7 linked regions of the Homo sapiens genome follow. The protein of the gene in region 1 interacts with the protein of each later gene in a pairwise test. Each region holds a gene or a part of one and is shown in the gene's direction. Other genes may lie near its edges. The genes, in order: TRIM69, FKBP1B, STK3, ASNS, MECP2, TRIM55 and SPMIP2.

Region 1 (4,543 bases):
AGATAGTTTTGAGGAGTACTGGTCATATATTTTGTAAGGATGCTGCACTATTGCAATTTGTTTGATGTTTTCCTCATAAAATTTGGGTTATTAATTGGGAGAGGAAGACAGTAGCATTAAAGTGTCATTGTCATCACATCACATTAAGTGTTCATACCGTCAACATGATTTATGACTATTGATGTTGACTTTAATCACCTGGCTGAGGAAGTGTCTGTCAGGTTTCTCCACTGTACTCTTTTTCCCTCCTTCTATACTTGTATACTTTGGAAGGCAGTCATTGTGCACAGCCCACGCTTAAGGAGGGGATAGTTATGCTCCCTCTCCCTGAGGGTAGTGTATTAATGTAAATTATTTGAAATTTTGCTGCCCTGGAGATTTGTCTCTTCTGGTTGGTAATTTTTTACTGGATGCCAAATATGATGAATTTCATATTGTTTGTACTGATGAATTCATATTGGTGAATTTTGTATTTGCTGGATTTTGTTGTAGTTCTTTCAGTTCTATTGAATTTAACTCTGGCATGCAGTTAACATGGTATGACATCATTTTGTTCCTTCTGAGGCTTAAATAAAGCCTAGTTAGAGTGGCTCAAGAGCAGCCTTTAATCTAGGGCTAACTTAGCCCATTTTCTAAAGTAATATACCCTTCTGATTACCCTACCTGACGTTGACATATTACGACATTTTTCCATTCTGGTTGGCAAGATTGAAAATTATTCCCAGCCTTGTGTGAGCTCCAGAAATTGTTCAGTCTATTGATTTCTGGAGGTTCTTTCTCTGGCCTTGACGAGTTTCACTGCATGCATGTGCAGATTAGTACTCAGCCACAGCCTTGAGAGAATCCCTTTGTAGATGTTTGTAAGTTTCTGTGAAGTTCCCTCCTCTGTGTTACTCTGCTTAGCAAATTGTAGCTGCCTTGGTATGACAGAGTTTTTCTTCCTGTATACTTTGCTCTGTAAAGCCAAACTTCACTTCTAGCAATCTTTTAAAATGCAAACTGATTTTTAAATTTTTGGTATAATTTTACATCAAGAAAACCAAATGAGATTTATTTAATATATGACTATTTATTAATAATGTATTATTTATCCATATACTCTCCCTCTATACAGAGTGGGAAATTGTTTTTCTATGGTAACTGTGGTCAGACCTTTGTAAAATATATTCCATACTTTTTATTTCTAAGTCTTTGCTTATTTTGTAGATCCATATATTCTCCTTTTCTGCCAGCCTTATAAATTAGGCTGTTGCTTTAGAGCAGGAGCTGGCACTTTTCTGTAAAGGTTTGAAGAGTAAATATTTTAGGCCTTGCAGGTGTATGGTCTTTGTTGCTGCTACTTAACTCTGCTCTTGTAGTGAAAAAGAAGCTACAGACAACATATAAATGAATGGTCATAAATGTGCTCCAATAAAACTTTACTTACAAAGTAGGCAGTGGGTCAGATTTGACCTGTTGGTTGTAGTTTGCCTACTCTAGCTTAGGGAATTTTTCAATTTAAAATATTTGCATGAACAAATGCCCAAATAATGTGGAGTGAACCATATGGGGAAAAAGCATTCTAGGACAAGGGAAGAAATTATAAGGACCCTGAAGTAGGAATGATCTTCATTATGTTCAAGGAACTGCCAAAAGACAAGGGTGGATGAATCAAAGTAAATGAGGGAAAGTGTGGTAGGAGATGAAGTAGAGAGGTAGGTAAATCATGTGGCTCTTTTTTCCTCTATAAGGACTCTGGATTTTATCTCAGATGTGATGGTAAACATAAGAGTATGCTGAGCAGGGAAATGGCTTGATCTCATTCATGATATGTGTAGAATAGGGTGCAGATGGGCAAGAGAGGAAACAGAAGAGTAAAAAGCTATTGCAGTAGTTCCAGGCCAGTGATATTTCTGGAAGTAGTCAGAAGTGTTTGGGCACAAGATATATTTTGAAGGTGGAGCTGACAGAACTTTTCGTTATATGAACGTGGCATGAGAAGGAAAGAGAGGACAAAAAGCTGACTCATGGGAATCTTCAGAGCCAGTGCAGGCTGAACTAGCTAGAGATGTGTCAGAGGCTTAGCAAAGAGAGCAGAGTGGGATTCCAAAACGTTGCTAAAAAGTCTTTATGGTACCTCCAAAGAAAACCCAGTCCTCACATCAGAAAGATTAACAACCCAAAGTGAATGGGGATATGTAAGGGGATAGGGATTTAGCCTATATGGAAAAATTCAAGATTCTTAATTCTTCAAAGCCTCTTGTTGGAAAGAGAAGTCCCTGGGATAATGGAAAAGACTCAGGCTTTTCTGAGAAGATAGAGTTAGACTAGAGTTCATGACTAGCCTGGCCAACATGGTGAAATCCTGTCTCTACTAAAATTACAAAAAATATCAGCTGAGCGTGGTGGTGCATGCCTGTAATCCTAGCTACTCAGGAGGCTGAAGCAGGAGAATTGCTTGAACCCAGGAGGCGGAGGTTGCAGTGAGCCGAGGTTGTGCCACTGCACTCCAGCCTGGGGGACAGAGCAAGAATCTATCTCAAAAAAAACAAAACAAAACAAACAAACAAACAAAAAAAAAACAGAGAGAGAGAAACTAGATTGATTCTGCTTCCAAGGATAAATAAATCCAATAACAACAAATGCATGCATACATGTATCTGTGTCCATGGTGTGCACACACATAGCTATTAGGTCTCCTTTATCAAATTTCATGTCAAGGTCCAATGATCTCACATCTGGAATTTGTGTCATCCTCTTGCTGGTCAGCTTTCAACCTCTCTTCATTTAGTTTAGATATTCTTTTTTATACTGCTGCCCTTTGAATTGTCTAAACCAATGCTTGTAAAATTATCTGTGATGAAGGGCCAATCAAAAAAATCTCAATCTGTCATGGACTGATACTTTTGTAGAATACAATATAAATTACTTGAAAAAGTAAAATTAAAAAAAGCAAAGATTACAAAGTACAAGCCCAATTTTGTAATTATTAGATTCAACTGACATAAAATTACTGTCAATTTGCTATGAAAGTTTTTAAAAGTTTACTGTTAATTTCTATACTATCTTTGTCCGAGACTGTTAACCACATGGTATGTGGACCACATTATGAGTAGCAATGACATAAACCACTCTAGATCTCAAAAATCTCATTATCTGTTAAACCAAAATAAACCTCTCACTATTGTCCTCTAAACTCTGTACCAGTTAGTTCAGTCTTGCCTGTGTCTAACAGGCAAGCTCTTGTGTTCTCTTCCACACAGGGGACTGTTTTTAATCCATTTCTTTCTTTCCGTTTATTCAAAACATCCTAAATACATCTCATGTATATACAACTGAATACTTACCTTCCTCAGAAAGCTTTCCTAGAACATCCTTACCTAATTTTTACCCCTTTGGCATTTGTATTTTCTTATATTTATTAGTATAGGTTTATATTATTTGTATTGTTTCCTTTAGTAGAGCATAAATTACTTCTGAGTAAACCCTGATTTTTACCCTAAATATAAAAATGTCTAGAATATAGTAACATGGATACCCAAACAATAAAAAGCATGTAAGTGGCCAGGTGCGGTGGCTCATGCCTGTAATCTCAGCACTTTGAGAGGCCTAGGCAGGTGGGTTGCTTGGGGCCAGGAGTTCAAGGCCAGTCTGGCCAACATGGCGAAACCCTGTCTCTACTAAAAAATTACAAAGATTAGCCAGGTGTGGTGGCACACACCTGTAATCCCAGCTATTTGGGGGGCTGAGGCACGAGAATTGCTTGAACCCAGGAAGCGGAGGTTGCAGTGAGCCGAGATCGCACCACTGCACTCCAGCCCTGGGCAACCTTGTCTGCCTCAAAAAAAAAAAAAAAAAAAAAAAAAAAAAAAGCATATAAGTAATTGCTTGCCTGTCTAAGAGTCTATGTGTATGGGGAGATAAAGTACTATTGAATATGAAATACTATCTTTTACTGTGGGAATTTGTGTTTACCCCCCTTTCTCCCATGCTCTGCTTTCTTTTATTTTCTTACTAGGCCTGTCTCCACTAACTCTGGACCCTAAAACAGCTCACCCAAATCTGGTGCTCTCCAAAAGCCAAACCAGCGTCTGGCATGGTGACATTAAGAAGATAATGCCTGATGATCCTGAGAGGTTTGACTCAAGTGTGGCTGTACTGGGCTCAAGAGGCTTCACCTCTGGAAAGTGGTACTGGGAAGTAGAAGTAGCAAAGAAGACAAAATGGACAGTTGGAGTTGTCAGAGAATCCATCATTCGGAAGGGCAGCTGTCCTCTAACTCCTGAGCAAGGATTCTGGCTTTTAAGACTAAGGAACCAAACTGATCTAAAGGCTCTGGATTTGCCTTCTTTCAGTCTGACACTGACTAACAACCTCGACAAGGTGGGCATATACCTGGATTATGAAGGAGGACAGTTGTCCTTCTACAATGCTAAAACCATGACTCACATTTACACCTTCAGTAACACTTTCATGGAGAAACTTTATCCCTACTTCTGCCCCTGCCTTAATGATGGTGGAGAGAATAAAGAACCATTGCACATCTTACATCCACAGTAATGAG
Region 2 (3,263 bases), on another chromosome or scaffold:
AAGACTGTTTCTCTAATATATATTTTAGTTGTAGGAATTAGGAAGTAGCATCATAGATGCTCCTACACTAAGCTGGCCCTGCTTCCTATGTTAAATATGACACATCTGAGGCCCTGGGAGAGGAAGTGATTTGCCCAGTCTCACACAATGAGTTAGAGCCAGAGTGAAGTCAAAACCCAGTCTCTGGATGTACAAGCAAGGTCTTTTTCTAGTCCCAAATGGCCTTTTGTGGTGGTCCAGGGACTGCCGGGAGCAGTCGTGGAACTGCATCATTTACAGAAGGTCTGATCTTTGAGTCAGAGTCACAGAAGAATTGAGAATAGCTGTTGGGCCTTGGGCTGCTGGACTGAGATGACATGTGGACATCAGGATGACAAGGCTTCTGAAGCAGAGGCTGGGGGAACCAGAACTGCTGGACCAGCACCTGGGGGGGGGTTCTGGTTTCAAACAGCCCTCTTAGTACAGAGTCTGGAGGCCACCTCTGACCAGCTAGGTCACCTTACACTGTTCCCTACAGTAGGGGATAATGTAACCTTTGGGTTTTCCCTTTTGGGGGAAACTTAGGAAACCTTAGGAACCTTATGCGAGGACTCAACCTGAGGCTGGAATAGCTGGGAAAACAGAACTTTAGGTGGAGGAAGTGGCATAAAAAAGTTGAAAAGTCTGGCTGGGCATGATAGCTCACACCTGTAATCCCAGCACTTTGGGAGGCTGAGGTGGGCAGATCACCTGAGGTCAGGAGTTCGAGACCAGCCTGGCCAACATAGCAAAACCCCATCTCTACTAAAAATATAAAAAAATTAGCAGGCATAGTGGCAGGTACCTGTAGTCCCAGCTACTCAGGAAGCTGAGGCAGGAGAATCCCTTGAACCCGGGAGGCGGAGGTTGCAGTGAACCGAGATCACACCACTGCACTCCAGCCTGGGCAACAGAGGGAGACTCCGACTCAAAAAAAAAAAAAAAAAAAAAAAAGTTGAAAAGTGCAGAGGAATTTGAGAAAGGTATGACCTGAAAAGGACACAGAGGGAAGGGAAGGAAGGGGAGAACAGAGAGGGTTATAAGCAGGCCAGAGCCGGATTGTGAAGTGCCTGTATGCAAGGTAGGCATTTGGATTCTGCTCTGGGGAGCTATTGAAGTATTTTGAGCAGGGGAGTAATAGAATCAGATTTGTGTTTAAAGAAAAAAAAAAATCAGTCTGGATGCCAAGTGGACAATGAAATGGAGGCGAGTAAAAGAGGATCAAAAAGACCAGTTAGGAGGTTGTTCCTGTGTACAGGTGAGATAAGCTGGTGACTTGGTCGTGGTAATAGAAACAAAGAAAAGGCCAGGCACAGTGGCTCATGCTTGTAATCCCAGCACTTTGGGAGGCCAAGGTGGGTGGATCACCTGCAGTTCAGGAGTTCAAGACCAGCCTAGCCAATATGGCAAAACCCTGTTTCTACTAAAAATACAAAAATCAGCTGAGTGTGGTGGTGGGCGCCTGTAATGCCAGCTACCTGGGAGGCTGAGGCAGAAGAATCGATTGAACCCAGGAGATGGAGGTTGCAGTGAGCCGAGATTGTGCCACTGCACTCCAGCCTGGGTGACAAATTGAGATTCTGTCTCAAATAAATAAATAAATAAATAAAAATAGAAATGAAGAAAATAGGTGGATTCCAAAGATATGGAGGACTTAGTGATAGGCAGTATGTGGGGGTGAGGCAGAAGGAAGTGTCCAGATTTCCTGCTTGGGCAACAGGATGGATGGGGAGGATCGGAAGAGGAGCAGGTGTGTGCAGAAAAGGCATTCCATTTTAGACATGTGGAATCTGAATTGGGAGTTTACTCATGACCACAGCTCTATTGCACCCGATTCTTGCTTTGACAGGAATGCTCCAAAATGGGAAGAAGTTTGATTCATCCAGAGACAGAAACAAACCTTTCAAGTTCAGAATTGGCAAACAGGAAGTCATCAAAGGTTTTGAAGAGGGTGCAGCCCAGGTAGGATGAGGATTCGCATTAAAGGGGATCTGGGGAGTTGGGGATCTGGGATCAGCACTCTGCCCTCCACCTCCACCTTCACCCACTCACAGACCACTACTGCTTTGACTCTACAGCCAGGGCATGGCAACGCCATCTGGTGTCCCCTCCTGGCTTTGCGTCCCCACCCCTCTCCTTGCCAGCATACCTCTTTTGTGTCCCTGGGGGCTCTCATCCCAAGCACATCCCCCTAGGCTTGCTCAGAACTAGCTGAGAGAGCCAGGCACGGTGGCTCACACCTGTAATCCCAGCACTTTGGGAGGCCGAATGGGGTGGATCAGTTGAGGCCAGGAGTTCAAGACTAGCCTCACCAACATGGTGTAACCCCGTCCCTGCTGAAAATACAGGCGTGGTGGTGCATGCCTGTAATCCCAGCTACTTGGGAGGCTGCGACAGGAGAATTACTTGAACCGGGGAGGTGAAGGTTGCAGTGAGCAGAGATTGTGCCACTGTACTCCAGCCCAGGCGATGGAGTGAGACTGTCTCAAAAAAACAAAACAAAAAAATAAACTAGCTGAGGTCTACCAGTTGCCTGGGACTGAGGTAGTGGAAGAGTTGGGGTGGAGTAGGCCAAGAAAATTTTTCGTTTTTTCGCTTTTTTGAAAAGAATTTCAGAATTACAAAAATATTAAAGAAATAGTACAGAGTTCTTCTATATTCTATCCAGCTTCCCCTTCTTGCATAACCATAGTACAATTATCAAAACCAGGACATTCACACTGATACAAATTACTTACTTATTCAAATTTTTGATTATTCAAAATTCAAAAGTAGATTTAAATTTCACCAATTGTCCCACTAATGCTGAGTGGGTTCTCAACAACTGCTGTGATGAGCCCTGGTTCAAGCTGTTCTTTCTTGGTCTGTCTGTGAAGTCCTATGATGCTCCCTTACGATAGGTCTTGTTTTTGGTGTTTTTTTTTAGAAAGAGTATCACTCTGTCACCAAGGCTGGACTGCAGTGGCGCAATCTTGGCTCACTGCAAGCTCCGCGTCCTGGGTTCACGCCATTCTTCTGCCTCAGCCTCCCTAGTAGCTGGGACTACAGGCGCCCGCCACCACGGCCGGCTAATTTTTTTGTATTTTTAGTAGAGACGGGGTTTCACCGTTGTTAGCCAAGATGGTCTCGGTCTCCTGACCTCGTGATCTGCCCGCCTCAGCCTCCCAAAGTGGTGCGAGCCACCGTGCCCGGCCTGTTTTTTGTTTTTTATTTATTTATTTATTTTGAGACGTAGTCTCACTCTG
Region 3 (4,543 bases), on another chromosome or scaffold:
GATGGTCTTATGGCCTCCAGAACCAGCTAGTGTTGGGGTACAAGTGGATCACAAAGACTCTGTGGTAAAACAGTTAACACATTTTTCATCAACATGTAATATCAATTTTCCATAAGCTGATATAATTTTTAACTCAAATTTTATGATTCTTAACAGATCAATTAGATCATTGAGTGCTTTTTTGTGTCTTTAGGGAGTTACTGAGCTCCTTATGAAACTATATGAACAACTTTTCATGCAGTCATATAGTTGAACATCAGCATATATATAATAGTTAAGAAAAATGAGTCTTTATAGAATCTAATTCATTTAGATTGCAGTGTATTATATTTCAAGGAAGAGAGACTAATGATGATGTTTCCGACATCATACTTTATACCACAGATTTCTGACATTTTGTATAGTGACTTTTAGATTTGACATCCACAAAAATCAATACATGTTATAATTTTGTTATAACTGATTGTATAGGTATGACTTTTTGTCACAGAGATTTTAGTGAAAACCAATTTTGAAGTTGAACAGATAAGTGGTTTTTATAGCTGCAGTTGTTTTATGGACCTCAGCAAATTTTAAATCCCATGAGCCAACTTTCTGTGTTTTTTGTTTTTACAAGTTAGACATCATTCTGTAATGTGAGACTTCAGTGTTTCCAAAATTCTAATCAAGTGATGTTAGTATAACCCCTAGGGATTGTCATATTGTAGTATAGCAGTAGTAAAGTATGTGAAGAAGTTATTGAGGGAAGACTTACTTTTTCTGAAACCATATAATTATTGTAGTTTTGTTTTTCTCGTGATCTAAATCTTTAAAACTTCTTAAATTAGTTGGTATGAGGTCTCAGCTTATGTCACATCAGTCAAAGCCACATTTGCTAATGTGTCTTTAGCATTTTTGTTCCCTAATAAGATGATAGCAGTATATTATTTTTGGTTTTCTAAAATCTCTACAATGTGTACTGAAGATTTAGAATTTCATCTCTTTTTCCATTGGAGTTTCAAGTGAGTTGCCTGATTTAACATCCTTGTCAGTTTAAATTATGTTTACACTTACTCTTTTATACCTTTAACCATGAAGCTAGAAATTATGGGCCTATTTTCCTTACCTCTAGAAAGGAAAATTACCCACAGACCCTTTGAAGGGAAGTGGAGAAAAATGACAAAAAGTATTTTAAAATTTGATCTGCCTTTTAAAAAATGGACGTGGACCCTATGGGCATGTCCCAAGAATAACTTTCTAAACCTGTTTTTAGCAATGATGGCATTACTTTTACCCTCCCGCTCCCAGTCTTCCTATTCAGATATCCCTAAGGCCTCCTCATTCCCCATGGAATGTCCAGGCTTCAGCTGTGTCACCAAGATCCTTCACAGTCTGGCACTAGCCATTATTTACATGTGGATCTCTACTTCTTCCTTATGGATTATGTTTTATCCATACTAGTCTGTGCCAGTTGGAATTCTGAATGCTTGACACTGGGTAAAAGCAGGTTGGTTGTCATTCAAGAAAATCAATTTAGGATTTATTATCCTGGAGTAGATTAGGACCAGGTCAAGAATCTATGTCATCAAACTGATGGGGTAGGAGAGATTATTTCATCATGGGTGACTCTGGGAGAGTAGTAGCTTCAGCAAAGAAAGACTGGGGCTTTTTAGTTTGTTCAGCTCAGATCTACTCAGTTAGCTCTGTTTTTATGGAGGAACTTTCTGATCTTACAGAGCTGTGGCTAGATTGGTAGCACTAGTTGCCCTGGAGGGAAACTATGTCTTATGGGTATCTGAGGAAGAGCCATATTTTCCAGCCAGGTTTTTATTTTTCATGTGTGTATCTGTTGTTTCTCCAGATAAGTCACGAAGTTTGTCCTGGTAAGAATGCTGTATAAATCTCCTCTGCCACATAATAGTACATGCTCTTGGAATATTGGTTTCATGAATGAATACTAATTACAGTAGAGTCAGAGTCAAGCTGTGTGTGTGTGTGTGTGTGTGTGTGTGTGTGTGTGTGTGTGTGTGTTATAGTAGAATTAAAGATACATAGCTCTGGAAGCTAAGAGAACTTTCAGGTAAACCTCCTGCCTTGGTAAGATACTTTCTTTTCAAGTGTTCTACCATCCCTGCTTCTCATTTCACAGAGCAGACCCTCTGAAAATGTGTTCCTTAAGATACCCATTCAGTGAAATTCTCTGATAAATATAGATAAATAATATACAGTAATCAGAATTATTTGGGAAATGCATATTTATCCTAGAGATAAATTATTAGAGAACTACAGTATATATTATTAACTTATTAAATACAAATAGTACAGGAAGGAAACAGTTTAAAAATTACATTACCCAAACTTTCCTTCACTTATTTGACCATGAAAAGCTTTTAATGAGGAACGTATCAGTGATTAACATCCTGTGTAATAAGCATCTGAGAAACACATTTTGGGAAATGCTATCATGAGAGCCCTCTAGTTCCCTGACCCTAGTTCCTAGTCTGCTTTCTTTTTATTAGCACACCCTCCCTTCACTTCTATATCCAGCTTAGAGGCTATATTTCATTATTTCGTTGCTTCTGCCACTCTCGTATGTTCTAAACTCCTCTTAGAGGCTATATTTCATTATTTCATTGCTTCTGCCACTCTCTTATGTTCTAAACTCCTCTTAGAGGCTATATTTCATTGCTTCTGCCACTCTCTTATATTCTAAACTCCACTGCCCTAATGTCTTGTCTTTTCTGCCTCTCCTGGAAAACTTTGATATGGTCCAGTCTCAGTGTTCATCTTCTCTGCATCTTTACCCTGGCTATTGAGTGCTGCTGGAGATAATCTTCCATCTGCACAGATGAGGGCTGCCAGATCAAGACCTTCTCCCCCATTTGGGCCCTCAACTTTCCTGGAGGCCTGTGTTTCTCTGTTCAGCAATTCCTCATTCTACAGAGTGGCTAGTTTAGATCTTCACTAGATCTCTTCTTCCTGCCTCCCATCTCAGTTTCAGTAGATGACGTTGCTCCCTACTTTACAGAAAAAAAGTGAAATGTTATCATGCAAGTACCTAGAGAAGCTGTATAGGTGTTTTAAATGTGGTCTTTGGAATAAGGTTGAAAAATTGAGTCATTCTTAATTTCCGTTTCTTCCTTCACCCTTCATGGAAGTAACATCTCATCAGTTCTGCCCCCTAAATATCCCTATTCTCTTCTCATGATCTCTGCTTGCATTTCTTTAGTGCAAGTCCTCATAGTTTCTCACTTGTGAGGCTTCTAAACTGATCCTCTGCCTCCAATCTTCATTCCCTCCCCACCATACAGATTTCAGCACATTTCTCTTCTGCTTATGCCCTCCCAGTGACTACCAATTGCTTATAGGCTAAAGCTCAACACCAGTTAAGAAGCAGTATATGCTCTGGTTCCTACTTACCTTTCTATTCCCTCTTCATCCTTCTTCCAGCTTCTCAGCTCTTACAGAGCTTTTTTACCTTTGGCCACTTGCAATGCCTAAATCCTCCTGTGGGATTTATGCTTCTTTTGCTAAATCATATTCATTCACTCAGGCTCAGTTAAGAGGTTGCTTCCTCTATCAACCCCAGGTTAGGAATAAGTGCCCCTCTAATAGGCTCCCATCTCACCCCAAGCTTTCACTCTTACAGCACTGTCATGCTTTATTGTGAGCGTGTGCTTTTGTTTATTTCCCACTGTATTTTTGATACCTAATACAATACCTAGCACTTGGTAAGAGTTCATGAAATGTTTTCTGAACAAATGATGTGGTATAGTGAAGAGCATGGGATGTGAAGCCAAATCATTTAGTAATTGTGTTGCTTAATTCTGTCTGAGTTTCAGTGATAAATATTTGTCTCTCTGTTGTGTGTATATGTGCAGGTGTGTGTATTAGGTAAATTCAAAACATGCCTAGCAGTGTTTTAAATATAGTTGATAATCAATAAAGGATAATATTCATCTGTCCACCCTATTAATTTATCCTTCCAACAACTTGATAAGAGGGAGCATCCGGGAAGCCCTGGGCATTGTCAGCCCTGCTTCCCATGCGGTGATAAAAATCATATCTTCCTGGGACCAGAGATGCTGAGCTATCGAGCAACTCTGTTCTTCCCACGGCAAATTCTTGCCTCCACCTTTCCCTGCCTCCTCCAAGACCTTGCTCCATCTCTCTTTTTTTTAGTAAGCTAGTCAAAGGGGCTTCTATAGAGAATGATGATCTCCAAAATGAACTGAGTAGCATCAACATGAATAAGAGGGGTTTGAATGGCAAGATGAGCAAATGCTAGAGAAGTACTCAGCGCACTTGGCATCTCCTGACCGAGAGTGTGTTTGATAATATCTATTGATACGACTTGAGATGAGAGAACTGTTTTCCACTGTTTGTGAAATTTGACATCTCTTTGAGAAAATGAGGAGAGTGTCATGGAAGTATAAAAGTACATTTACATTTTATTTTATTTTATTTTTGGAAATGGAGAAAAAGGTGAATTTCTCAGGTTATAGCTGTTACTAATTGAGCTCCTACTACAGGCCAAACACTGTGCTTAGGATTTTGTATATGT
Region 4 (5,271 bases), on another chromosome or scaffold:
TAATCCTGTCAGCCGAGAAGGATGTATATCGTCTCAGGACCTGTAATAATTGCGTTAAGTACACAAATTATACAGCATGTGTGTTTGAGCAATATGAAATGTGGGCACCCTGAAAAAAGAACAGGATAACAGCAATTGTTCAGGGAATAAGAGAGATAACCTTAAACTCTGACCGCCGGTGAGCCAGGCAGAACAGAACCATATTTCTCTTCTTTCAAAAGCAAATGGGAGAAATATCGCTGAATTCCTTTTCTCAGCATGGAACGTCCCTGAGAAAGAGAATGCGCACCTAGGGGTAGGTCTCTAAACTGGCCCCCCGGGGCGTACCTGTCTCTTATGGTCGAGACTGCAGAGGTGAAATAAACTCCAGTCTCCCATAGCACTCCCAGGCTTATTAGGAAGAGAAAATTCCCACCTAATAAACTTTGGTCAGACCGGTTGATCTCAAAACCCTGTCTCCTGATAAGATGTTATCAATGACAATGGTGCCAAAACTTCATTAGCAATTTTAATTTCACCTTTTGCATCTCCTTGAAATGTCTGCCTTTGCACACTCTCCCTGAAAGAGGAGGGCAAGGGAGCCAGGATAGAAAGTGAGGTGGAGAAGTGTAGAGCTCTGGACGGACAAGCAGGAGATACGCAGCACAAGGAAGCACACTAGGTAACACACCAAGCAGGGGAACCTGTCTTTCACTACATAGGCAAGATGCTACGGGAAATGGGCTCTGGGTTTACACAGATTATGACTCAGTTCTCTACTGTTGTGAAGCTGTGTTTGGATAAATCCCTCAACTTTTCTGAGTCTTATTTTTTCATTTGTAAAATGTAGATAGAAGACCTACTTTCCCACATTGCTCTCAGGTTTAAAGTACGTCAATTAGGATACAGCAAAGTCTGTTTGATACTGAAAACTTTCCAGCAACAATGAACCTTAGAACAAGTCATCTCTCATCTTTGCTCTTGCCTGTAACTACTAAGCGACTACTCCATCTTCTGTTCTTAGGGATTTTAAATTGTTGACGTTTTTGATTTAGTCAGGAATGCGTTGTATGGGGATATCAAACCTGCATGCTCTCCAAGCATTGACTGTAGTCTGATCTTAGTAGGTCGTGCACATATAATTTTACTATTTCTCAATTTATTTCGGTGCTGATGTAATTAGTAAAATACGATTTAAGAGTGTTATGATACTTTTTAAAAATCGTGATGTCTTTTCTTCATCAAAGAGATACTTAAAAGCACATAATCATCTTGTGGAGGCAAGTTGACAAAATCCTTTTTGAGATTCTAAAAGGAATCTTTGTACTTAAAATGTTTAAGGACCACTGATGTATTTTGGCTTCATGTATCAATTAGATTTAGATTTTATTGTTTTAGAGATGGGGGTCTCCCTTTGTCGCCCAGGCTGGAGTTGAGCTCACCTCAGCCTCAAACGCCTGGGCTCAAACTATCCTTCTGCCTCAGCCTCCTGAGTTGCTGGGACTACCATGGTGTGCCACCAATTTTTATAGAGATGTGATCTCGCTGTGTTTCCCAGGCTGGTCTTGAACTCCTGGTTTCAAGTGATCCTCTTGCCTTGGCTTCCCAAAGTGTTGGGATTACAGGCGTGAGCCACCGCTCCTGGCCCCGATTTATTAATAGATCTTATAAGGACATTTTAGGCCTCACGCATCAGTTTCTTAGGACAAGCTTTTCTCTGCACTGCATAATAAATCAGACGGCAGTGCAACAAAAAAACGGTGATGATTTCCCGAAGAACAAACCAAGTTCAGAAGCCTCCCTAATTGTCAGAACAGCAGGTAGCCTGGGCGGAGCTCTGAGGCTATCCTTAAACAGGCGCACTGAGACGCAAGGCGCTGGAAACAAAAGAGCTCCTCCTTGCGCCCTTCCGCCGCCCCACTTAGTCCTGCTCCGCCCCGGACACCCCGCGGCCCCGCCCCTGTGCGCGCTGGTTGGTCCTCGCAGGCATGATGAAACTTCCCGCACGCGTTACAGGAGCCAGGTCGGTATAAGCGCCAGCGGCCTCGCCGCCCGTCAAGCTGTCCACATCCCTGGCCTCAGCCCGCCACATCACCCTGACCTGCTTACGCCCAGGTGAGCCGGGTCCTGCGCCCCGTGCCCTGCGCCCCGCGCCAGCATCCTCCTCGCGTGCCCTGGGGCTGCTCCGGAAGGAAGGGGTGGAGGATGCGGTCTTCAGCCTGGCACCCGGCAGACGCGGTTCGCGGGCGCCTGCTGATGCTGCGGCTCCTGCGGTAGGGAGGGCGGGGCGGACGCCTAGCGATTGTTACGCACCTGACAGCTAGCGGAAGGACCTTTCTGTCCTGGTTCCCTGAAGCATCGAGAGGGAACCGCGGCCGGCAGGCCGGACCGCTCCGGAGAGGAGGCAGCGGCAGTTTGAGCCCCTGTAAATGTTATATGTGTACTTTTTTTTACTATGTGGCGTCGAAGCCTGTGGACATTTTCGCGGTCCGGGTCCCTGCGGCGGACGGGTCGGATCGTGCTCGTGGCCAGGGCGCAGTCAGGTGTCGCGTGGTCCTGATCTAGGAAGAGACTGCGGCCTTATCACCGTCTCGGTGTCTGCTTTCACCTTCAACTGCCCCCCTCCTCACCTGGACCGCTCACCCTCCTCCTCCCCTCTCACCCCGCCATCCCCACCAGTCCCCACCTGTCTCTGTAGACTGCAAGACTCATCAAGTGACTTGCTGAGCAAACCCTGCCGAGAAGAGGTCTGTTTAGGGACACAGGCGACCAAGTACAGAAAAAGGCAAAAGAACTAGCATGCCTTTTTCAATGGCTGTCATTTTGCAGGGCTGGCTTCAGATGATTGTTATAGCTTTAAATAAAAAGGACAGTTTTCATCTCGGCCCGTGGCCTACATTATTTCTTTACTGTCCATTGCCCTGGGCGCTTGACTAATAATTTAACAGCAGTTTTTTTTTTTAAATTTTAAATCATGATTCATAGCATTGCTGTAAGAGTAATTAGAGGTAAAGTAGGGCTTGAACCTGTCTGTAGTTGGTTACTTACTGAGATCTTAATATAAAAGTAAAGGGAGAGGGTGAAGTTGTAAGTAGCACTAAGTGGAATAGAAATTAAATGCACTGAAACTGCCATGTCCAGTTCGGTAGGCGCTAGCCACCTGTAACTGTTGAGCACTTGAAGTGCTGGCTAGTCCTAACTGAGATGTATTGTGTTAAATACACTGGATTTTGTCGTTGGAGTAGGAAGAACAGTGTAAAATATCTGCTCGATAATATTTTATATTGATTACATATATGTTAAAATGTTACTATTTGGGACATACTGAGTTAAGTTTATTTAAAATTAATTTCACCTTTTTCTTTTAATGGGGCTACTAGTATATTTAAAATTACATATGTGGCTTACATATATATTTATTGGACAGCACTGTTCTAGAAGTTTAGGAAGAAATAAGAAAAATATTGAGAACAGGTAGCGGCAGTAGGAACTTTGCCCTCCTATAAGACTGATTCCAATAAAAATAATAGGTTATAGTTTTAATTGGCTTTTTCCTACTAGAAAAAATAAGTGTACTTTACATGCCTCTTTGTTCTCCCTTTTTCCCCTCCAGTTTAGTGGTTAGAATGTATTTATTATAGCAGGATTAATACAGGGATTCACTAAGCAGCGTTAAGAAGACTTAGGTAACTGATTCCCTGATGACCATACTTGATTTTCAAAGCACTTTCCTAACCCGTTTTAAATTGATATAGAGTCAAAGGCAGATGGCTTATTAGTAGTCATCTCATTTAAATCTTATGGAATTTTTCCAGTAAATCTCAAATAATTTGTTATAGGCTATTTGGGCTATTTGGTCAAGTGCATGGAAGAGACAGCATAGGACATGTGGTACTTCATTTCCAAATTGCTTGAGATGATTTTCATTCTAACCATATATTATTTGGTTCTGGTTTTCCGGAAAAGCCAGCTAAACCTTTGGTTCTTTTAGATATAAATGAAATATCATCAAAGAATAGCTCAAAGTGACTTATGCAACTTGAATGTATATTTTTTCCTTAGGGTGTTTATCCCAAACTATTTGGGCATTTGCTGCAATTCGCAGTTTTTTTAAAAAAAACACCAAAATAGTTATTTTTCAAGTTAGAGATGTTTTAATTAAAACATCTTGTTTTTGGTGTATCCATTGACATTCTCAAAACGGAATGTATCTGGACCTCTGTGTACAATCTTCGTAGCACTCAGACACTGAACAGAAAGGCAGTCATCACTGCCAAACAGGGCCCAAATGCCACACATGGTGCAATGTGTCATTTTGAGCTGGCAGCAGCCAAATAAAACAGCCCTTTATTTCACAGTTGAGAATTTGAAATTGGAAAGTAATTAACGTATGTAAGGGTGATTTATTTGCTTCCGGGCTTATAGGGATGAGCTAAGTTTTTTATTAGGGATGTTGTTGGTGTATATGTCTCACCTACTTTGCTTCCTTACTGAACAATGCAACTTTGAGACAGAAATATTTGAGAACATTTTTGTCAGTGAGGACATTTTGATAGTGAATATTTTGTATCTTCTATTAACTTGAAATGTTTTATTTGTTATAAAGCCAGGATATCTGATATCAAATTAAATTGTTTTTTTTTTCCCTTTAGATTTTCTTCAATCACATCTGAATAAATCACTTGAAGGTAACCTAGATGTAATATAGTGAAATGCTTGAAAGAGCTGCGTATCTTTTACACTTACAGCAGTATGATTTTCTGTTGTACCCATTATATGGTACCTGCAGCTAGTTCAGATAAAGAGGGCATTTAACTGTCAAGGGAACCTGAGAGGAGACTCTAGTAATCTGGAAAGTCTGTTGGATCTTTGAGGGATTTTGGGATGGTGAGAGTGGGGCTAGGATCTCTGGCTAGGTTGGAGCCAGCCTGCATTTGTATCTGTATCTTGGAAGCAAACTTAGAATGCAGAGACAGATGTGGCATGGACGCTGTCAGCTCTAGCCAACCACTAAATCCTAAGGTGGGAGAGATGCAGGCTTTGGCTAGGTGCTAAGCTGCTGTAGCCGGTTGAATGTAGAGGTCACTATCTTTTCCGAATACCTGTAAGTAAATTAAATCATTCTCTACTCCCATGTGCCTGCCAACCTAATGGGAAATCGCTATAGAAAAGATGGTTTAAATTTTAGTCTTTGAAGTGGTTTATGCACGTTTCCGGAATCAAGATTTAATGCAGAGTTGGATTGGATATTGAATATTTTTGATTTGTCTGCTTTTCTCTCCATAGAAAGCT
Region 5 (4,543 bases), on another chromosome or scaffold:
TCTGTTGCTTCACCACCTAGACCAGCCCCAAATCCTCAACTGCCCCCACCCTGGGCCACACCTGGACCACTGCTAGAGGCCTCTCATGGGCCCTCCCTGTTTTTCTCTTGCACTCCCCGGGCTTTCTGGCACAAGATGCCCCAGAAGCAGAATCACATATCTCTCCTGGGAGCCAATCTAGTGTGTTTACTGCCCCTGGAGTGTTATTGTTGGCCTTAGAATATGTCCCACTACAGGTTTGCAGAGCACTGTAGTCAAAAGTCATTTGAAATAAATCTTTTCTCTGTGGTATATTGTCAATTTGATATAGAATTAAATTTGTTTCTTTTCTTTTTTCTTTTCTTTTTTTTTTTTTTTAAGAGACAGGGTCTTGGCCAGGCGTGGTGTCTCATGCCTGTAATCCCGGCACTTTGGGAAGCCAAGGTGGGTGGATCGCCTGAGGTCAGGAATTCAAGACCAACCTGGCCAGCATGGTGAAACCCCGTCTCTGCTAAAAATACAAAAATTAGCCGGGCGTGATGGCAGGTACCTGTAATCCCAGCTACTCGGGAAGCTGAGGCAGGAGAAGGCTTGAACTCAGGAGTCGGAGGTTGCAGTGAGCCAAGATCACGCCATGGCACTCTAGCAAGACTCTGTCTCAAAAAAAAAAAAAGAGAGAGAGAGAGACAGGGTCTTGCTCTGTCACTCAGGCTGGAGTGCAGTGATGTAGTCATGGCTCACTGCAGCCTCATACTCCTGACCTCAGGTGATCGACCCGCCTCGGCCTCCCAAAGTGCTGGGATCGTAGGCTGAAGCCACCATGCCTGGCCCGAACTCATTTGTTTTTATTTGCATTAAGTGTAATAAGGTTTTGTTACTTTTAGTTTGAATTTTATTTTGGGTAATATAAACATTTACATGATTCAGAAGTCAGAATTACACTGAGGCATGTTCAGCTAGGCCTCACTCCTGTGCCTGTACCCTTACCTTTTTCCCCCTACCCCATGCAGGGAATCAATTTCATTAGTTCCTGGTGTGTCCTTCCTTAATACCCCCCCTTCTTTCTTTGGTAGAATGCAGTAGATATGTTTGCGCTTTGCTCCCTTTGCTTCACAGTGGATCCTGGAAATGACTCCATCGCAGTTCTTAGAGCTCTTGTTTAGTCCCTTTGGATCTGCACAGTACTCCAGTGTGTGGGCGCACCATAAGTTTATTCAGCAAGTGCCCTGGTGATAGGGATCGGGGGTATTGGAAGCCTTTGGCTGGTAAAAATAATGTTGTAGCAAATAACATCATGCATATGTTCTTTGAGATTTCTGGAGGTGTCTCTTTAGCATAGATTTCTAGAAGGCATTCCTTACGTCACGTTTAGGTTTATAGTTTGACCTCATGGTGATTAAGGTATTTGGGAAATGCAAATGAGAGTTTCGAAGAAGCCAGATCTTTCCCATTAGTTCACTGTTTTTCTCTGACATTAGGACCGTCCGGGTTCTAGGGAGCAGCCCTGGCGTTAGGCAGTGCCATGATGGATTGTGTAGAAGTAGCGATTCCCATCTGTCTGCTTTCTTGGCCCACTCTGCTGGTGGCTCCCCTTCCCTCCCTCCTTTATGGGGAGCTGGGGAGCTGCCTAGGGGTCCATTCTCAAAGGCTGATCTCTGGTGGGCAACAGGCCACACCTAGCTTTCCAGGGTTCTTCGTCATTTCCCATTGAGAGCTGTAAGACTCAGAGACATGAAAAGGAAGCTCTGGCTGGGCACGGTGGCTCACGCCTGTAATCCCAGCACTTTGGGAGGCTGAGGCGGGTCGATCACCTGAGGTCAGGAGTTCGAGACCAGCCTGCCCAACATGGTGAAACCCCGTCTCCACTAAACATACAAAAATTAGCCTGGCGTGGTAGCACACGCCTGTGATCCCAGCTACTCCGGAGGCTGAGGCAGGAGAATAACTTGAACCCGGCAGGCGGAGGTTGCGATGAGCCGATATTATGCCATCGGCAACAGAGCGAGACTCCATCTCAAAAAAAAAACAAAAAACAAAACAAGGCGAGCTCTGTGCTGGGACAGATTAGGGACCCCTCTTTACAGCAAGAAAGACTGCTCTGTGGGTTGTAGGATGCCTTTGTGTATGCAGTGGCTCTAGGTGACTCTGGCAGCCACACTCTGGGCCCTAAACTTCTGGAGGAAGATACAGGATAGGGAGGAACTCAGGGGTGAGTCATGGTGGGGACAAGACATTCCCTCACTCTAAGACCTTGTCACTAGATTGGAACATCTCTTGCCTCCCTACACCTGACCTGATGGTTCTGGAGAGATACGTCCTTGCAGCTTCTGAGTCCCAGCACTAAGCAGCCTTTGGTAACTTCCCTACATCATTTGAGTTCTGGTTTCCTAAGGATGCTTGCCAGTGAGTGCCATGGTGCCCTCATTGCACAGTCTGTGCAGTGTAGACAAGAGGGGAAGTCTCTTGGGGTAGACCAGCCGCAAGGCGGTGACTAGCACTGATGTGAACCACATGGGACAGGGGAGTTGTGGGGCTGAGAACACGGAGGGTGGGAGTAGTCATGCTCTTTTCCAGAATGAACTGCTAACGAAGGGACTCGCAGGTGGCTGCTGCTTCTTTCCAAGCTGCCCCTGTTGTTGCAGAGGCTCTGGAGTCCTAGGAGGTTTCACGGTGGCATACTCGACAGAGTACTAGAGCATCATGGCCAGATAGTGATGCTGGGGTGTGGGGCCTCACGGTGGCCATTTCTGACGAGACCCCACCGGGCCAAAGTGATGTGTAGAGAAGGAGCTGCTTCGGTCACCAGAAAAGAACGGGGAAGCCTCCCACACTAGAATAGGTAGGGTGCTCTTCTCCACCGGCAGGAAGGGGATGTATGGCTCTGCCTGGACCACACCTTTTTCCTTGCTCTTCCCTCCGCATCTGCTGTGGCCGAGGCCATTCCTCATCAGGGAACATGTGTTAGAGGCTCACGCCACCTGGGACCACTTGTCTTATCACCCCCAGGACCCTAGGCGGTAGTTTCCTGTGGCCTGAGTTAGCTGATATTTATATAGTGCCATTGTGCCTTTTCTCCTGTGATGCTCACAGTAAGGATGCCTAGATGGGGTTACCTGTTGTCAAGATAAGGAAACTGAAGCACAGAATGCTGAGGTCATTTGCTGGGTTCATGTTTGGAAAGCGGCAAAGGATTTCAGTGCAGGTTGGCTGGCTCCAAACCTGTGTGTGCTTTCCATGACACTGTACTGTGTGCCTCATTGAGCCTCATTCTAGAAAACCAAAAACACACCCAAGGCCCGGCCTTCACAAAGGAGACCCCTCCCCCATTTGGCTCCCTTTCCAGCAGTCGACGGCCTCTTGTCAGCCATCGAGCCCAGAGTCCCTTGAAGTGCGACTCATGCTGGGGTGGTATGCTCAGGAGCCGCAGTGTTTCCGCTCAGAGGAAAGGGCTCTGATTCTCCTGCAGTGCTAGGAGACTTGTGGGTGGCCACAGTGCAGGTCAGGCACACCGGCCAGCACCACCCACAGCCCAAATTCCTAAAGAAATATTTGGGTCCCAGCTTGGCCCGAGTCTCTGTTGTCCTGGGGAAGGACATCAAGATCTGAGTGTATGATGGCCTGGGGCCTTGCATGTGGTGGGGGTCCAAGCCTGCCTCTGCTCACTTGTTCTGCAGACTGGCATGTTCTCTGTGATACTTACATACTTGTTTAACACTTCAGGGAAGAAAAGTCAGAAGACCAGGACCTCCAGGGCCTCAAGGACAAACCCCTCAAGTTTAAAAAGGTGAAGAAAGATAAGAAAGAAGAGAAAGAGGGCAAGCATGAGCCCGTGCAGCCATCAGCCCACCACTCTGCTGAGCCCGCAGAGGCAGGCAAAGCAGAGACATCAGAAGGGTCAGGCTCCGCCCCGGCTGTGCCGGAAGCTTCTGCCTCCCCCAAACAGCGGCGCTCCATCATCCGTGACCGGGGACCCATGTATGATGACCCCACCCTGCCTGAAGGCTGGACACGGAAGCTTAAGCAAAGGAAATCTGGCCGCTCTGCTGGGAAGTATGATGTGTATTTGATCAAGTAAGTAAGAGCAACTCCTATCTCTACAGGGCAGGGAGGGCAGGGACAAGGATCCCTCATGGAGCAGGAAAATGTATGTGCCCAGGGTGGGGTCGGGGGGAACATAAACAATGAACACTGAGACCAGGTGTGCTTGAAATGACCGTGTACAGAGGTCGCTGCCCTGAGTGGGAAGTTCTCAAGGTAGCAGGCCCTCTATCCTCTCCACACCTCAAGTCTTTATCTGGGGATGGAATAGCTGCGGAAGCAGAGGAACTTGCAGAGCTAGGGGTTCAGAGGGGTGAAGAAGCATGTTTCAGTTCTGCCTTTTAAATGATCCCAAAAAGGTTAGCAGTTTTCAAATGACATTTGCAGACAGCCTCATTTAATTCCATGAGAAGGGTGAGCAAAGGATTATCTTGTTGAAACTGATTCCTGGAGAGACTGAGCACCGTACCTGAGTTCAAACTTGGGAATGTTCTAGATGGTGACTCAGGCCCAGGCACCAACCAGC
Region 6 (4,543 bases), on another chromosome or scaffold:
GCAACAGTTCAACAATGGCTTTAGGTCAATGTTAAATGTTACCTACTCACTTCTAAGGAAACAACCAAATGACCATTTGATTTTTTTTCTTTACATCCAGAAATGTTGGCATTGGTTAGAAACAAATATCCCACCCATCATCATCTTACCATTTCAATATGGGAGGGATGATCTTCACTTTATAAAATCATCCCTTTTTGGTATATTGCATCCACACTGCATTCTCCCTAGAAATGGGATGAATTTTATTTTCATTAAAATATTATAGACAACTTTAATTTGGTTCTCCCAAGAAGCCAAGAAATATAACTGTCCTAGCAGACCCAGGAGGAAGGCTGTGCAGCAGCCAGAGGCTTTGCATCAGAGTATACCCGGAGACCAATACCTACTTCATTTATGGTGGAGGTATACTTCACTTGCTAAGCACACTCACACAGGTGCACACACAGAGGATGTAGGAAGCACAGACATCAAAAGGAAGAAAATGGAGACTATTTGAAAAGATAAACTCGAAAGCTCAAAAAGTGTATATCTTGATTGAATTACTGTCCAGAGAAGAGGGGAGGTGTATGGCTCCGAATTGGTCTTAAAGATACATACCTTTTTACTCAAGTAAATGAAAAAGTATGCTAAAAGCAAGGAGCAGTCTTTGAGATGAGGAAGTTTTTGTGGAGAAGAGACAAATATGGTTGCTATCATGCTTTTGTAGGTAACAACAGTCCTTTAAAGTGTTCTGTCTGCAGACGTTTTCACAATGCAAAAGTCCACATTTTTTCCTATTCCATTTTTCAGGCTGCTAGAAAGTCACTGCTGAAAGTGTTGCAGATTCACATTAACAAAGGCACAGTAGGTACTGAAATTCAGAGTCATCACTGTCAGTAGCTAGGTGGCCTCTGAGAACATTTTTTTTTCATGGCACATATCTGTTCCCTCATCAGCTTAGAGGGCAAATTGATAACCTGAGGTGTTTATTGTTCCCTGACTTTCACAGCACTTTGATGGTCTTGAAGCCAAGAAAGATTAGGGGACATCTAAGTTAGTCTCTTGTGTGTGGGTTCTACCTCAAAGAGTGTGAAAAAATAGGAGACTTCATTTCATGGAGTATTTCACATTTGAATATGACATTAGGTTAACCTGAACATTTTGAGTTAATTTCTAAAAGTCTGTAAGTTCCAATTTCGTAATTCCAAAGAAGAGGCATGTATTTTTGCCGTTTCAGAAACAGATTTATCTAACTCTTACCATTTTTTGCATAGAATTATATTAAAAGCTAATTAAACAAGAGAAAAAAGTTTTTTCCATTAGGAATTAGAAAATATAATGATTTTATATTTATCATTTATGATACTTTTTTTTGTTCATTATTCTCCAAAACAATGGAAAATTATGGCAGGTTATTAGATCATACAATGCCAGGTACAAAGTCAGTGGTTGGTGAATTTTGTTGAAAGAACTAGGAATATAATTCTGAAACAATTTAAGATGCCTTGCCTTTAAAAAATCTACCTTAAGCATAGTGAATTTGGGTTTTGTTTTTTTTTTCTCTTTTGGAGGTGGAGTCTCACTCTGTCACCCAGGCTGGAGGGCAATGGCGCGATCTTGGCACACTGCAGCCTCCACCTCCAGCCTTGGCCTCCCAAAGTGCTAGGATTACAGGTGTGAGCCACTGCACCTGGCCAGTACATTTGTTAAAAGGCATATATTCCATTTACAAGCACTTCATATAATTTTTTAAAGTTACTTAAAATATGGGCCCAGCTGGGTGTGGTGAGAGTAGCAATGACCCAGGAGTTCAAAGACCTTGACTGTAGGCCAGGCACCAATAATAAATGGTCGGATGGCCTTGAGAAAGTGACAGCTCTGCTGGGTTTCAGTTTCCACATGAGTGACATGATTGATTTGGAGCAGGTTACTTCTAATATTCCATGCAGCTTCAAAATTCCACAACTGAATAATTCAGGTTAAGGAATTTGTACCTAAATTTAATAGACACTGATCCAGTACCAATATATGCCAGGTAATATTATAAGCACTTTACAAAGTATTTAATGATATAATAATTTTAATAAAGCATAGACCGCATATGGGGTAGCATTTCCTGCACTATGAAGTATAAACAAATGATAGTAGTTTTACTAACATTCAATATAAGTTATTTAAAAAAACAGAATAGAAATAAAATAATGCTTGGAATTGCAAGTAATATAGGAATGAAATTAGTTATTCCATTTAAACTGCCAAAAAAAATTATATGGTCAAAATAAGTGATTTAATCTTTATTTGACTTGAGAGAGTACACTAGATTACACATGCTTCACATCTGTCTCATTGTAAATGACTTGGCTGCCATAAACTTGAATGTTCTCACATATTAAATCACATAGGAGAAAATTTTTGTGAATCAAAGACTTTCTACCTGTATTACATCTTAATATAATACTCATATTATAAATGTTTCAAGTGCACAACTCATTTGGGAGAAACAAGCTGGAAACCATTATATGATCACAGTAGAGCTTCTAAATATCAGAGAGGCTTATTTCATGTGTACAGTGGGCACCTGGTTGCCTGAAGGTTGGAACAAAAGATAATACAGTGAAAGAGAGTTTGATTGGAAAGCTACTAATAGGTTTCAGTTTCTAGGCCTGGTTGAACAGTCCGACTCTCAAGCTAAAGGGCTGGAAATGAGTGGAAATTTGTCAAGCCAGGCAATTTCCACATCTTGACATGCTGCATGGGCCCTTGTTCCATTACTTTCACAACTGCTAGGACTTCAAGCATTTTCATCCCCTCCTCAACCTCCTTTACTCCTATTCCTCCTTAAGGTCAAGTTCAAGTACTAATTCCTCTGAGAAACTCTTCCTGAGTCAACATTTCTGGCTCCCCTCAAAGTTCCTCCACCTACACAAAGGGTTGGACAAAGATTCCATAAATGCTTCTAAAGCATCTGGTATAAATCTCTAAAATATTTACATTATTCAGCCTACCATATTGAATTACATTATTGGTCTATAGTCTTTCTCAGTGAACTGTGAGCTCCTTGAGAATAGGAACTATGTTAATTCTTTTTTGGATCCCCAGAGTCTTGACACAAATGACATGCATTGTTTGTTAAATCCATGAATGAATGGGTGGATGACAGTGGTAAGGCATTTACTATTAAAATAGTTGGCACCACTGGATCTCCATGCATTATAATTTGGTTGGGAACTGTGATGAGAATTGACTGTTCCAAGGAAGGCAATGGAGTAAGGGATGTATTTCTTGCACATTTGCAGAGTATCTTCATAATCAACAATTTGGTTTAGGTCATTCTCCCTGACTCCATACTGAGAATAGTAGAGAAATTGAGAGGAAATGAAACACATTAAAAAAAAAATCTATTCCGCCAGGATTGGTGGCTCACGCCTGTAATCCCAGCACTTTGGGAGGCCGAGGCGGGTGGATCATGAGGTCAGGAGTTTGAGATCAGCCTGACCAATATGGTGAAACTCCTTCTTTACTAAAAATACAAAAATTAGCCGGGCAAGGTGGCATGTGCCTGTAATCCCAGCTACTCAGGAGCCTGAGGCAGGAGAATCACTTGAACCTGGGAGGTGGAGCTTGCAGTGAGCCGAGATCGCGCCATTGCACTCCAGCGTGGGTGACAGAGCATGACTCCATCTCAAAAAAAAAAAAAAAAAAAAAAACCACAAAATCTATTCAACAGATATTTAGTGAACAGCTACTATCCAAGGTGCTCTGTGTCCTAGGCAGACCCAGATTCTACCCTCAAAAAAAATATACTTTGGATATTTAAGAAATTCACATAAAGGAAGAAAGCAATACATGACATAAAAGACTTCAATGTTTACCAAAATGAAAGAATATGTAATAAAGGGTATAGAATGGTCAGAGATGTCAGAAATAAATTTGCTGGATTCCCAAGAAGCTCTCACTGTGCGGGAGAGCTAGGTTAGATCACTATGGCTCACAACCTGCTCTCAGCTATAAAGGTCCTGGACCCAGAGATGGTCAAGTCCAAGGAGATTGGCATACATGCACACCAAGCTTACCAGGGATTGAAAAACCAAAAGGCCAATGACTAGATGAACTGGATAATTAATTATGATTTAAAGATGGGCCCAGACTAAAGGGATCTGGATGGTACTGGAGATACTTCAGCCACACAACACAAATGTGCAAGCCAGACTTCCAACACAGCCTTTCTCTCCAAGAGCATAGACCAGATACAGTATTACCCATTCTTAGGCAGTATTGGATAAATAGAGGATCTGGTAGATACAGATATATGCTATCAATGGTAACTATTATGAGATTTCAGAAAGTTAAAAGTTGCATTCAGCCATAAACATCAAGGGACACTTTATGGAAGAAGTGGTAGTCTGACAATGTCTTTGAAATTGCATAGAGTTTGCAGTGGTGACTTGGGGAAGAACACTGTAGACAGAAGGGAAAGCATGAACAAAGAAAGTGAGTGGTTTATTTTTGCTGGAATTCAGGGTATACAATGGAGGATAGTAGAATGTTATGAGAGAAATTG
Region 7 (4,543 bases), on another chromosome or scaffold:
TCGAGTAGCTGAGATTTCAGGTGTGCGCCACCACGCCCAGCTTATTTTTGTATTTTTAGTAGAGATGGGGTTTTGCCATGTTGGCCAGGCTGGTCTCGAACTCCTGAGCTCAAGTGATCCACCAGCCTTCACCTCCCAAAGTGCTGGGTTACAGGTGTGAGCCACCGCACCTGCCTAGAAAATGTTATTTTTGTATTACAAAGATTTTACTATAAAAACCTTATAAACAAAATTAGGAAGAAAATTTAAAACTACTTTAGAGCATGGTTATATATTTTTAAAACATCTGTTTACATACAAATGACATTAATTTGTTTACCCAGTTCCAGGTCCTATGCAATTTTAAAGTTTAAAACTTGGGCTGAATGCGGTGGCACACACCTATAATCCTAGCATTTTGGAAGGAAGAGGTGGGAGGATTGCTTGAGCCCAGGAGTTTGAGACCAGCCTGGGCAACACAGAGAGAGTTCATCTCTACAAAAAATTCTAAAAATCAGCCGAGTGTGGTGGTGCACACCTGTGATCCTAGCTACTTAGAAGGCTAAGCCAGAGGATAGCTTGGGCCTGGGAGGTCGAGGCTGCAGTGAGCTGTGATCACACTACTGCACTCCAGCCTGGCCAACAGAGCAAGGCCCTATCTCGAAGGAAAAAAAAATACTTAAAAATTACATTTCTTTAAAAATACATTCTTTAATTCAGATTTTTCTTCATTAATTCCTACTTGGCTCAAATTAAATATAGTTAAGAAATAGTTAATATAAGACATAAAATTAAAAAGGCACTATAACAGATAATCTAATTTAACCTATTTTTTCAGATGGGAATACTCAGGGTTCAGGTAAGTTAAGTGACTTGCTGAAGGCCACACAGCCTTGTAAGAAGGATGGAAGCTTCTGCCTGCTCCCTGTTTATATGGGGTATTTATGTGCCTTACATCCAGATTACTGACTAAATAAAAGTATTAATATATTTAGTCAGCCATCATATACCTACTAGAAAGTCTGCTCATGTAAACCAGAAATATTACAGAACTCTACCTTACAAAGGAGTGATCACAGCATGAAATTTCTGTTAGAAATACATTAGAATTGGAAATACTCTCTAGGAAATGGCCAAAAAACGATATGATGAATGAAACTGTAAGTGGTCGGAGAAGCACATAAATGTATATGTAATTTTGAAATGTATTGCTCCATTAGCCAGCATTTCAGACCCACTTATTCATCTTATTTTTTGCTCTGTGAAACTGTCATACTAATAGTTATGTCTCAGATTCAATTATTTTAAAAATAGAAAATGACTTCACACTGAATTGCCAGTGGTTTCCTGTTTGAAGAAATAATAAAATAGTCCTACTGCAAATGCAGTTTAAGTCCCAGCACTATAATCCACAAGACAACTCTTTTAGATTTTTAAAAACTAATTCATGACAAAAGCTTACACATTTTAATGGTACTGAAACATTGGGTTGACTAAACTGCATTTTATTTGTCTATTTTTATTTTTACCTGCCTTTTATTCTGTTGTCATAGCATGCAGTTTGCCCTGAATCAAAATTTGTTCTATTACTTTAAGATATATTGTAGACAATATACATATGTCCTTACCATGATTCTTCAGTCTACTCAAAAATAATAAATTAAAAGCTAAGATAGTTGGAAATGATCTTCTGATAGAATATAATGGGCCATTTATTGAAAACAAAATTGCCAAACATCTAGTTAGCTTAATTATATCCAGTTGCAGTGATTTATTTGATAAGGACATTAGATATTAGGCGTTGCTATCATAATAGCAAAAGTGGGAGACCTTATTCATTGTCCTCCATCAAACACTGTTCTTTTCATAAGACATATTATTACATTTACAAAACTATAAGTGTTACATGAAAGCCTTATCTATAGGTGACAGCAACTCCAAATCAATCCTACCTTAAATTGTTGGTCACCTAACTCAACACAGTGTAATTTGCAGAAAAAAAAAAATCAGTTGCTGCTATCCCTTTGAAAAGCACCTGAACCAACCCCTTAGAAGAGGACTTCTAAGGAAAAGCTTTGTCTTAACTTCAAGTTTTTTGGTTTTGTTTTATATATGCATAAATATAAATATATAAATATAAATATATGTATATAAATAATTACTGCATAAGCTAAGATGGAAGGGAGGAGGATTTATTTGCCTTTCCATGGCTTTATTTAATTTTCCAAAGTTGATCCTTTGTAGGTTATGTTAATATCACTTCTTAATTTTTTTATTTTTTATTTTTTAGCACAAACACATTTATTTATTAACCAAAGGGATGATCCTAATTAATCTGATACTGAAACAGCTGCATGTAAAATGTTTGTGATAAAGATAATTGAACACAGTAATGAAAAAAAAGAAGCAGTATGGAGATTTGCCCATTGAACTGAGCTTGTTGATTTTCATAGCTATTTCCTGTCCAAAGTGATGATGAAATTTTTATTCTACTTTTTTATAGATCTGAGAACAGGTGACATTGTTCATGACACAGTCTACCATGAATTTCCCATCTTTCAATTTTCTTGTTATTGTGCTTTTCTTCCCATCCCACTCCTGATGCTGAACCAATGATCCATCTGTAAAGTTGTAGAGAGTCTGAGTTTTTTTGCTATGAGCTGTAGTTTCTTCAAACTTCTCTCCCAGGGTACGAGAAAACTGTGCTGTTTTCTAAGTGCTCTGAGTTTTTATGGTGAGGTTTTTGTCATCACAAATGATGATACACTCTGGCTTGGCCATTGTGCCCATTTTTCACAAAGCTATTCCCACTCCTAGTTCCTTCACGTATTCATCAAGGCCTTTGCTGTCCACTAGGCATCATCTTCCATCTGCTGAACAGTGGTCATGGTGGGCATAGGAGGGTGTGTGGAGCAAGCTTAGCAAGGTCGGCATGGGCAGCGCACTGTGAATATCACTTCTTTAAATCAGGATGAAATGCTCTTGATTAAGCAAAAAGAAGTTTCTGTTGTTGAAACAGGATGTGAAAAAATTATTAAATGCAAGATGAGTTGATTGTTTACTGTGTGCCAGGCCCTGTGCTACCTACTAGGAAATAGGTGTAAGCATGAAGATCCTGCTTCAAGAAGCAAAAACTGTAAACTTAGACACCAATGTCGGCTTTCCCCTTAACTCTTTTGAACTCAGTTTTTAAAAAATCTGTAATTTGGGGGATATAAGGTTTTTATAAGGTTTTCTATCATGGTTTAATGAAATGAAAGCACCTGTAAATAATATGAATTTAATAATTTTTTTAAACTGTTTTTTTCTCTTGAGAAGTTGATTATCTGGGGGAGATTGGTGCTGGGGAAAGGACACAAAACCATCTTAAAATTCTTTTTTTTTCTTAATAAGCCAACCAAGTACACCTTATTTCCCAAAGTCTGAAGCCATAAGCAGGTTTTTAAAATACAGGAAGAAATAATCTAAGATTATTTAAGCAAATGGTTTTAAAACTTTAATGTGGAAATTATTCTCCTGGAGAGGCTTGTTAAAATGCAGATTTTGGGGTGGGTGTGCTGGCTCACTCCTGTAATCCCAGCAGTTTGGGAGGCCGAGGTGGGGGGATCACTTGAGCTCAGTAGCTCGAGACCAGCCTGGCTAACATGGTGAAACCTCGTCTCTGCTAAAAATATAAAAATTAGCCAGGTGTGGTGGTTCACGTCTGTAATCCCAGCTACTTGGAAGGCTGAAGCAGGAGAATTGCTTGAACCCAGGGGATAGAGGTTGCAGTGAGCCAAGATCATGCCACTGCACTCCAGCCTGTGCGACAGAGCAAGACTGGGGTGGGCTTGAGAGTCGGCATTTCCATCAAGATCCCAGGTGATGCCCACCCTGCTGGTTCCCAGACCACATTTTGAGTAGCAAGGATCTAAACTATTCTGGCTCCACCACTTACTTATTGTTGTGACCTTGGACAAGATACTTACCCTTCTGTGTCTCAGTTACACCATCTGTAAAATGGCCATAATAATATCTACTTCATAGGGTATTTAATGGGGTAATATGTACAGAGTACTTAGTGTCTGGCATGTGGTAGGCTTCACATGTGTTATATATGTATATGCATATCGTCACCTGAGGTAGGTCACAAGCAATATAAGTAAACTAATGGCTACTGGGCCTAGAAGATGAAGTTATTTGTGATGCTAATCATTATCCTGACAAACATTGGCTTTTTGGATTTTCTTGTAAACCTGATCTAAATAACATTAAAGAAAAACAAGTTCCATTAAAAATATTTTATAGTAGAATGGCCAAGTTTGGAATTCTGCCTATAAACTTCATTAGTTTACATAATCTTGGTTGATGAAAACTCTATGTCATTCAGAAAGAATAGAAAGATCTCATTAGGGGCCTCTGGTGGAAAGCTTTTAACTACAGGCGTCATTTTGTCTGTTTACCTTGAGTCCGTTTCCCTTGAGTCCGTTTCCCTTTCCTTTCTTCCCTTTCTTGCAAGAGGAGAGGTAGCACAAGTTGAACGCCAGCAAGGAAGCACTTTACCCTTGACCCCTGCTGTGTATGA

What was found.
Region 2: the proteins of TRIM69 (region 1) and FKBP1B interact in binary tests that used the Homo sapiens proteins (3 or more experiments, as listed by UniProt).
Region 3: the proteins of TRIM69 (region 1) and STK3 interact in a two-hybrid assay, tested with the Homo sapiens proteins (one study listed by BioGRID).
Region 4: the proteins of TRIM69 (region 1) and ASNS interact in binary tests that used the Homo sapiens proteins (3 or more experiments, as listed by UniProt).
Region 5: the proteins of TRIM69 (region 1) and MECP2 interact in binary tests that used the Homo sapiens proteins (3 or more experiments, as listed by UniProt).
Region 6: the proteins of TRIM69 (region 1) and TRIM55 interact in a two-hybrid assay, tested with the Homo sapiens proteins (one large-scale study listed by BioGRID and IntAct).
Region 7: the proteins of TRIM69 (region 1) and SPMIP2 interact in binary tests that used the Homo sapiens proteins (3 or more experiments, as listed by UniProt).

Annotation. Positions count from the first base shown.
Region 1 is NC_000015.10:44,763,234-44,767,776, forward strand, and holds part of TRIM69 (E3 ubiquitin-protein ligase TRIM69), read left to right. Parts: intron 1-3,997; coding exon 3,998-4,539; 3' UTR 4,540-4,543.
Region 2 is NC_000002.12:24,058,947-24,062,209, forward strand, and holds part of FKBP1B (peptidyl-prolyl cis-trans isomerase FKBP1B), read left to right. Parts: intron 1-1,867; coding exon 1,868-1,980; intron 1,981-3,263. UniProt on the Homo sapiens protein: Has the potential to contribute to the immunosuppressive and toxic effects of FK506 and rapamycin. PPIases accelerate the folding of proteins. It catalyzes the cis-trans isomerization of proline imidic peptide bonds in oligopeptides.
Region 3 is NC_000008.11:98,542,117-98,546,659, reverse strand, and holds part of STK3 (serine/threonine-protein kinase 3), read left to right. Parts: intron 1-4,543. UniProt on the Homo sapiens protein: Stress-activated, pro-apoptotic kinase which, following caspase-cleavage, enters the nucleus and induces chromatin condensation followed by internucleosomal DNA fragmentation.
Region 4 is NC_000007.14:97,869,174-97,874,444, reverse strand, and holds the start of ASNS (asparagine synthetase [glutamine-hydrolyzing]), read left to right. Parts: upstream 1-2,036; 5' UTR 2,037-2,094; intron 2,095-2,279; exon of another isoform or gene 2,280-2,726; intron 2,727-4,631; 5' UTR 4,632-4,667; intron 4,668-5,265; 5' UTR 5,266-5,271.
Region 5 is NC_000023.11:154,031,714-154,036,256, reverse strand, and holds part of MECP2 (methyl-CpG-binding protein 2), read left to right. Parts: exon of another isoform or gene 1-2,333; intron 2,334-3,699; coding exon 3,700-4,050; intron 4,051-4,543. UniProt on the Homo sapiens protein: Chromosomal protein that binds to methylated DNA. It can bind specifically to a single methyl-CpG pair. It is not influenced by sequences flanking the methyl-CpGs.
Region 6 is NC_000008.11:66,144,129-66,148,671, forward strand, and holds part of TRIM55 (tripartite motif-containing protein 55), read left to right. Parts: intron 1-4,543. UniProt on the Homo sapiens protein: E3 ubiquitin ligase that plays an important role in regulating cardiac development and contractility, muscle growth, metabolism, and fiber-type differentiation.
Region 7 is NC_000004.12:159,024,447-159,028,989, reverse strand, and holds part of SPMIP2 (protein SPMIP2), read left to right. Parts: intron 1-2,265; exon of another isoform or gene 2,266-2,927; intron 2,928-4,543.